2 linked regions of the Homo sapiens genome follow. The protein of the gene in region 2 interacts with the protein of the main gene of each other region in a pairwise test. Each region holds a gene or a part of one and is shown on either strand. Other genes may lie near its edges.

Evidence for each region.
Region 1: the proteins of MKLN1 (region 2) and MORC3 interact in a two-hybrid assay, tested with the Homo sapiens proteins (one large-scale study listed by BioGRID and IntAct).

Annotation. Positions count from the first base shown.
Region 1 is NC_000021.9:36,337,023-36,340,850, reverse strand, and holds part of MORC3 (MORC family CW-type zinc finger protein 3), read right to left. Parts: intron 3,120-3,828; coding exon 2,905-3,119; intron 2,078-2,904; coding exon 1,930-2,077; intron 1-1,929.
Region 2 is NC_000007.14:131,491,560-131,494,515, forward strand, and holds part of MKLN1 (muskelin), read left to right. Parts: 3' UTR 1-2,956. UniProt on the Homo sapiens protein: Component of the CTLH E3 ubiquitin-protein ligase complex that selectively accepts ubiquitin from UBE2H and mediates ubiquitination and subsequent proteasomal degradation of the transcription factor HBP1.

The sequences.
Region 1 (3,828 bases), on a different chromosome or scaffold from region 2:
AGCCTGGTCAATATGGCAAAACCCTGTCTCTACTAAAAACACAAAAATCAGCCAGGCATGGTGGCAGGTGCCTATAATCCCAGCCACACGGGAGGATGAGGCAGCAGAATCGCTTGAACCCGGTGGGCGGAGGTTGCAGTGAGCCGAGATGGCGCTATACTTCACTCCACCCTGGGGGAAAGAGCAAAACGCTATCTCAAAAAAAAAAAAAAGAAAGAAAGAAAGAAAAGAAAAGAAAGAAAAAAAAAAGAAAAAGGAAAAGGTGCAAACTATACATACAAGAACCTGGAAAACGCCAGGAGTTATGCTAAGTGAAAAAAGTCAAATCCAAAAGGTTTCCATGTTGTTTATGTAATATTCTTAAAATGGCAAAATTATAGAAATAGAGAACAGATTAGAGGTTGCCACGGATTAAGGAGGGAGTGGGGTTATGAGGGAAGTGGGTATGGCTACAAAAGAGCAACATGAGGGATTCCTGTGATGACTAAAGTGTCCTGCATCTTGACTGTATCAACATCAAAATCCTGTCAATATCAATAGTACTACTGTACTATAGTTTTTTTTTTTTTTTTTGAGACAGAGTCTCGCTCTTTCGCCCAGGCTGGAGTGCAGTGGTGCTATCTCGGCTCACTGCAAGCTCCGCCTCCCTGGTTCACGCCATTCTCCTGCCTCAGCCTCCTTAGTAGCTGGGACTACAGGCGCCCGCCACCGCGCCCAGCTAATTTTTTGTAATTTTAGTAGAGACAGGGTTTCGCCGTGTTAGCCAGGATGGTCTCGATCTCCTGACCTCATGATCCACCCGCCTCAGCCTCCCAAAGTGCTGGGATTACAGGTGTGAGCCAGTGTGCCTGGCTGTACTATAGTTTTGTTAGATGTTACCAGCAGGGGAAACTGAATGAAGTGTACCTAACATCTCTCTATTACTTCTTACAACTACACATGAATCTACAATTACCTCAGAAAGTATAATTGAAAAAATCCTCCAGGAGAAGGAGGGGTAGGGAAGTGAAAGCAAGAAAAACGAATTCAGGTATCAGAATAGCACAAGTTTTTTCAGTTCTTTAGGCTTATCACTACCTGTGCTTTATTCCTGTGATTCAGTATGTCTTAGATCTTTCAGTATTAGACATTAGTCTTAAATTTTAAAATTTATTTGCGAAGGATTTTATCCTCACAAAGATAAAGGATTATAAATTTTAGCAACACAAAAATCTCACCTATATTACTTTTCTCATCAGGTGCTACATCACTTTTAGTTTTAAGTAATGTACACAATGAAGAAAGATTTATCCTCCTGAATTTGTCTTCTCATTGCTTTTTTTCTTTTTTCTTTTTTTTTTTTTTTTTTTGAGAAGACGGGGTGGAATAAATGAGAGAGAATAGAGTGCTAATGGAGACTGAATGGCAGGGATAGAAAAAAATTTTTTTTTTTGGCCGGGTGTGGTGGCTCACGCCTGTAATCCCAGCACTTTGGGAGGCCAAGGCGGGTGGATCACCTGAGGTCAGGAGTTCTAGACCAGCCTGGCCAACATGGTGAAACCCTGTCTCAACTAAAATACAAAAGTTAGCCGGGCATGGTGGCAGGCGACTGTAATCCCAGCTACTCGGGGGACTGAAGCAGGAGAATCGCTTAAACCTAGGAGGCGGAGGCTGCAGTCAGCTGAGATTGCGCCATCGCATTCCAGCCTGGGGAACAAGAGTGAGACTTCGTCTCAAAAAAAAATTTTTTTTAACAAGATGAAAATATCTCAAATTGAAGCTGAAATGGCCTCTATAACATATCCTGGGCAAAGACAAATCAGTAACTACACCAAAAAATGAGTACCTTTCCATGTATTTCTACTGTGTGTAACGAGAGATGAATATAACACCACCACCCTGCACGTGCACTTTACTTCCCAAACGGTCAACATCTATGTCCACGTTTACCTTCTAAGATTCCAAATGATGATCCTCGTCCCCTTCTTGCCTATAATAGCATCAAGTTCTGCCAGTAACTTCTGTTCCGTGGAAAACAGAGAATGTTCCAGAATTGCAGCAAGGCTGGCTTTTGATTCTGCTAAATTAATCATCTGTCGTATATCATAAGTTAAAGACTCAGATTGACAACATAGTTTTCATAATTACAATATGAAAACTAACTCTATAAACTTAAATAACAGAAAAACTATTTATAAATAATTTTCTAAGGTTTTTTTTTTTGTGAGATAGGGTCTCACTATTGCTTAGGCTAGAGTGCAGTAACATGATCAGGGCTAACTGCAGCCTAGCTGGGACCGACCACAGGCACCCACCACCACGACCGGCTAATTTTTAAATTTTTTTTGTAGAGATAGGGTCTCCCTACGTTGCTTGGGCTGGTCTCAAAATTCCGGGCTCAAGCAATCCTTCTGTCTTGGCCTCCCAAAGTGGTGGAATTTCAGGGATCAGCCACCGAGCTCAGCCTATTTTCTAAGTTTTAACATGGCAGTTTGATTTCAAATGAACAAGAAGAAGAATAAAAAATAAGCAGATTATTATTCCTAACTAACTTAATACTTTCTAATATTCCAATGTGTTCATACAAAAGGCATTTTCCTAAAGTTATCCTGCCTTTTGTGGTCACTAGTCAAATTTTCAAGCCAAACCATAAAGTCTTACTAGTCTACAATAACCCTGAAGTAAACAGAAGAGCTATGGGAAGTTTAACATAAAATGTTGAGTATTTCCATAGCAGGATTCCAACAGAGAAGAGAAAGGGACAAACCCTTAGCCTCAGGTGTAGGGTAAATGCAGAGGACAGAGGTAAGAAATGGAATAGGTGTTATTCAAAGGGAATAATCTGGAAGAAGGCAAAAACATAGAATGTTTCCAAATTATTTCTTCAGTTTCTCCACAGCTTTTATTTCACAACCAAAAGGATATGGTGCTTGTTGAATGCCACTATTGGAACAACAACATGCTCCGCTTTTATGACTTCCAAGTAGGTCTGAGACAAAAGGCCCACGCTCATGCTTTCTCCATTTTTGGTAAAAACGATTGCGTCTTTACCCAGACGCATAGAACCCGACTTGAAGCCATTCCCATATAATCCAACTGGGACATGACCATTCATGGTGACTTTGTCACTGAAGCCAAAGCTAAGAAGAAAATAAAGATTTTTAAAAATAAATACCTATAATCAAAAATAAATAAATAAATAAATACCTATAATCTTTTTTTTTAATTCATTAATTGTAATACCAAGTAAAAAGCCTGGGTTCAAATACTGGCCTCACCCTTCCTAGCTGTATAATCTTGGGCAGATTACTTTTTTGTTGTTGTTGATTTTTTATGTATCGGGCAGATTACTTTTAATCTATCTTGACGTGTTTTCCCAGCTCTGAAATAAGGAAACCAAATCTACATCACAGGGGAGAAAAAGGATCACAAGTACTAACATGCAAACTCATCGCTGGCACACCCTGACTAAATAGCTGAGTATAACCCATGCTTCCGGGACTGTGAGATTTCACCCCATGAATCTCTTCCTCTAAAAGTTACTCCCAACAAAGTGGTAGGTTTTATTACAAACAATGGTTAAACCTAATTTACACTAAAGTTATCAGTAATTGATATAAATATACTACAACTCTAAAGGAATGGTGGACTTTTAGGGAGTTGGAAGTAGGGTGGGGTAGGTGATGACAGTGGTGAAGACTGACTCATCATCTACCAGTAGTAGAAAATCATGCTTAGAGAACAGCTCACACTGTACATACAGCATTTCATTTCAAAAAACAAAAACCAAGAATAGTAAGTATGGCATGGAAAACCCTTTAGGTAAAAGCAACAATTTTAAGAAGTGTG
Region 2 (2,956 bases):
CCAAAGCTTCTAGTCTAGAGGTCTGTTGGTTGAAGGCAGACATTTCCAAGTTTGTTGAAATAATACGAAGCTGACTAGCTTACGTGAATGATGTTGCCCTCATTTGTTTTGGGTGAGGACTCATTACTGCAGTATATTGATCTCTTCACCAAATGCTTTTTCTTTTTCTGAATAAATGCTGTATTAGAGGTTCTATTTATATATGATTTTTAAAACTTTGGTTTCCTTCTATCCACCAAATACTGTGAATTGTTTTTCCATTTATTTTTCTTAGCTAATGTAACTTTATTCTTCACTTTTTTTTAGCCCTAGACTTCCTAGATTTTCTGTGGCATTCTGTAGGACATTGTATTGCTTGGAAAAAAAAAGATCAAAATCATTCTGGGGCAAATGCTCTATTATCCTTATTTATGACAAGAGAATAATGAAATTCATAAGAAATTAATAACATTCAGATATTGCTATAAATGTACTTGAGTCATTTTCATTTGGGGATAGTAATAATGGCTGTGGCAGCTTTAATGGAGAAACCTGTGTTGGCCTCTTTTTCTGGCATTAGGATCTCTTGTCATAGAACTATTGGTAAAGTACAGGTTTGATAGCAGAGTTCCTGAATTCAGCATATCATCAGAATTTCCATTTACCTTTTGTCTTTTCTTTTTATTGTATTTTTTAACCTTTTTGTTTCTATTCCTACCTCCCATGAGTAACATTGATTTCTGCTGAAGTTAGAATTTGTGTTAAGAATTGACTTTAAACTTCTGAAATAGTTGAATATTAGAAGTGGCTTCAGTTGCCATGAAATGATTGCTTTTCTTTTTCTTTTTTTTTCCTTAAATAAAAATAATGCAGCCTTATATATGTCTCTTCCCCTCAAGAATGTGAATTTAGGCTGGGCATAGTGACTCACGCCTGTAATCCCAGACCTTTGGGAGGCTGACACGGGAAGATTGCTTGAGCCCAGGAATTTCAGACCAGCCTGGGCAACACAGGAAGACTCCATCTCTACTTAAAATATTTTTGTTTTTTAGCCAGGTGTGGTGGTATGTGCCTGTAGTCCCAGCTACTTGGGAGGCTGAGGTGGGAGGATCACTTGAACCCAGGAGTTTGGGGTGCAGTGAGCTATGATTGCGACACTGCACTCCAGCCTGGGCAACAGAGCAAGACCCTGTCTCAAAAAAAAAAAAAAAAAAAGAATGTGAATTTAGCTCCAATTCCAAATGACTAACTCTTAGGCCAGTCATAGCCAATGAAATCATCTGACGGTAGCTTCTGTAGCCCTTAACCTAAGGAGTCATTAGAGGTTATAGTAAATTAGTTTCTCTAGTGGTGCAGAGAGAAATGCCATCGGGGAAATTATCACTGTCTTTTTGGCTAAAGTTTTATATTGTGAACTGGATCCCACTTAACAGCTTAAAAACACAAAAATGAAAGGGTAGTCCTAGTTTATCTTCTTAATTAGAATCATTATTTGGAAATAAGATTTGCAATGTGCTGTCTATCCCCAAACACTGCTGAGCTTGCTGGAAAACAGAATTTAACATGAATGTTGTCTGAAAGCTGTAGGATCAATGGCAAAAAAGGGGAAATGTTTGGTAGGGAATTGGACCAGTTCTAAGGTATCACTTTTAATTATAAAATAATGTCTTCCTTTTTATCTGCTTTTCAGACAGCCTCAGTGAACTATTAAACATTTGTGTGCAAAGTCCTATTTTGCTTATCTAAGGCATTTTGACTTGGAAGTATTAAACTTCAGGAACGAGCTAGAGAAGACAATGAGGGTATGTTAGAGAAGGAAAAATAGGAGCTTTTTGCTTATGGATTTTAGAGGTCCACAAATCGAAAGGAAAAATAAATTTCTTCATTTCTAACCCTAAAATAATTTTGTTAATGAGATGCTGGGAAGAAGACTACCAAAAGGCCTCAAAGCTCATGCTTCTAGAATATTCAGTAATTCTGAATAGTCTTTGGGAAGTAGCATTTCTTGGGAAGTAGCATTTCCCTTCTTCCAAATAACTGTTTGAGATCTTAAAACAGAAAATCCAGTGTTAATGGGCTCTAGATCTTAAACTAGGTGAGCAGCTTCTTACATACAACCAGTTCCTTGTTAAGGATCCAGCAGGAAAACCAGCCATAAAACATTTCAACATGCAGTTTGGGGGCTCCCTTGCTTATTCACTGAGTTTAAGCTCTTGCTGCAACATAGCTCTGTACCATCTGGGATGCTAGCAGTCACAGCAGTTAGCTCAGATATCTGAGCTGTCTGCCACACAAAGCCTGAGGAGATCATCATTCTTCAGTTTCATTCATTACTTAATGAATGCCAAATTAATTGGCAGGAAGAAGAAACACTGTGTGATATACTGAACAAGCCTGTGTGCATGAATAAGGAGCCACTCAAAAAGCCAATTTTGAGCTTTATTTCTCCGTTGTTAACAAATCTCAAGAAAGCCTTTGTTACAGTTTAGCTCATGTCATTTGGTTGGTTTTATTTTCTAGCCCTTTAACATAGGAGGAAAATTGTCATTTCATGTATAACTTGTAACACAGAATTGAACTGATACTAGTTTCCTTGCCTTAAATTAATTATATGTCATCCCAAGGGTCTCTGTTAATTCTGCTTTGCCAAGCAATAATGAGATCTGGGTTTGGCATTAGAAGTATTTCATAATTTTGGTTTTTTATTTAGGTTTCCTCCACATCTGTAAAGTGATTGATTAAATTAGAGGAGGCGTGTAGAATAAATCCCAATCCCATTGCAACTGGCAGAGCTTTATAAATCTTTATAAATTCAGTTACAACAAAGGAGAGGATCCTACACCATTAGAGCCATGCCATCAGGTGTTTGCAAGTGACAGCTGTAGTGTGTTGCCTCAAATAATACCAAGTTATAAATAATACCAAGTAATTATCAACTCACTCCCAAATTTAATAAGATATCAAAGTCCAAAAGGTT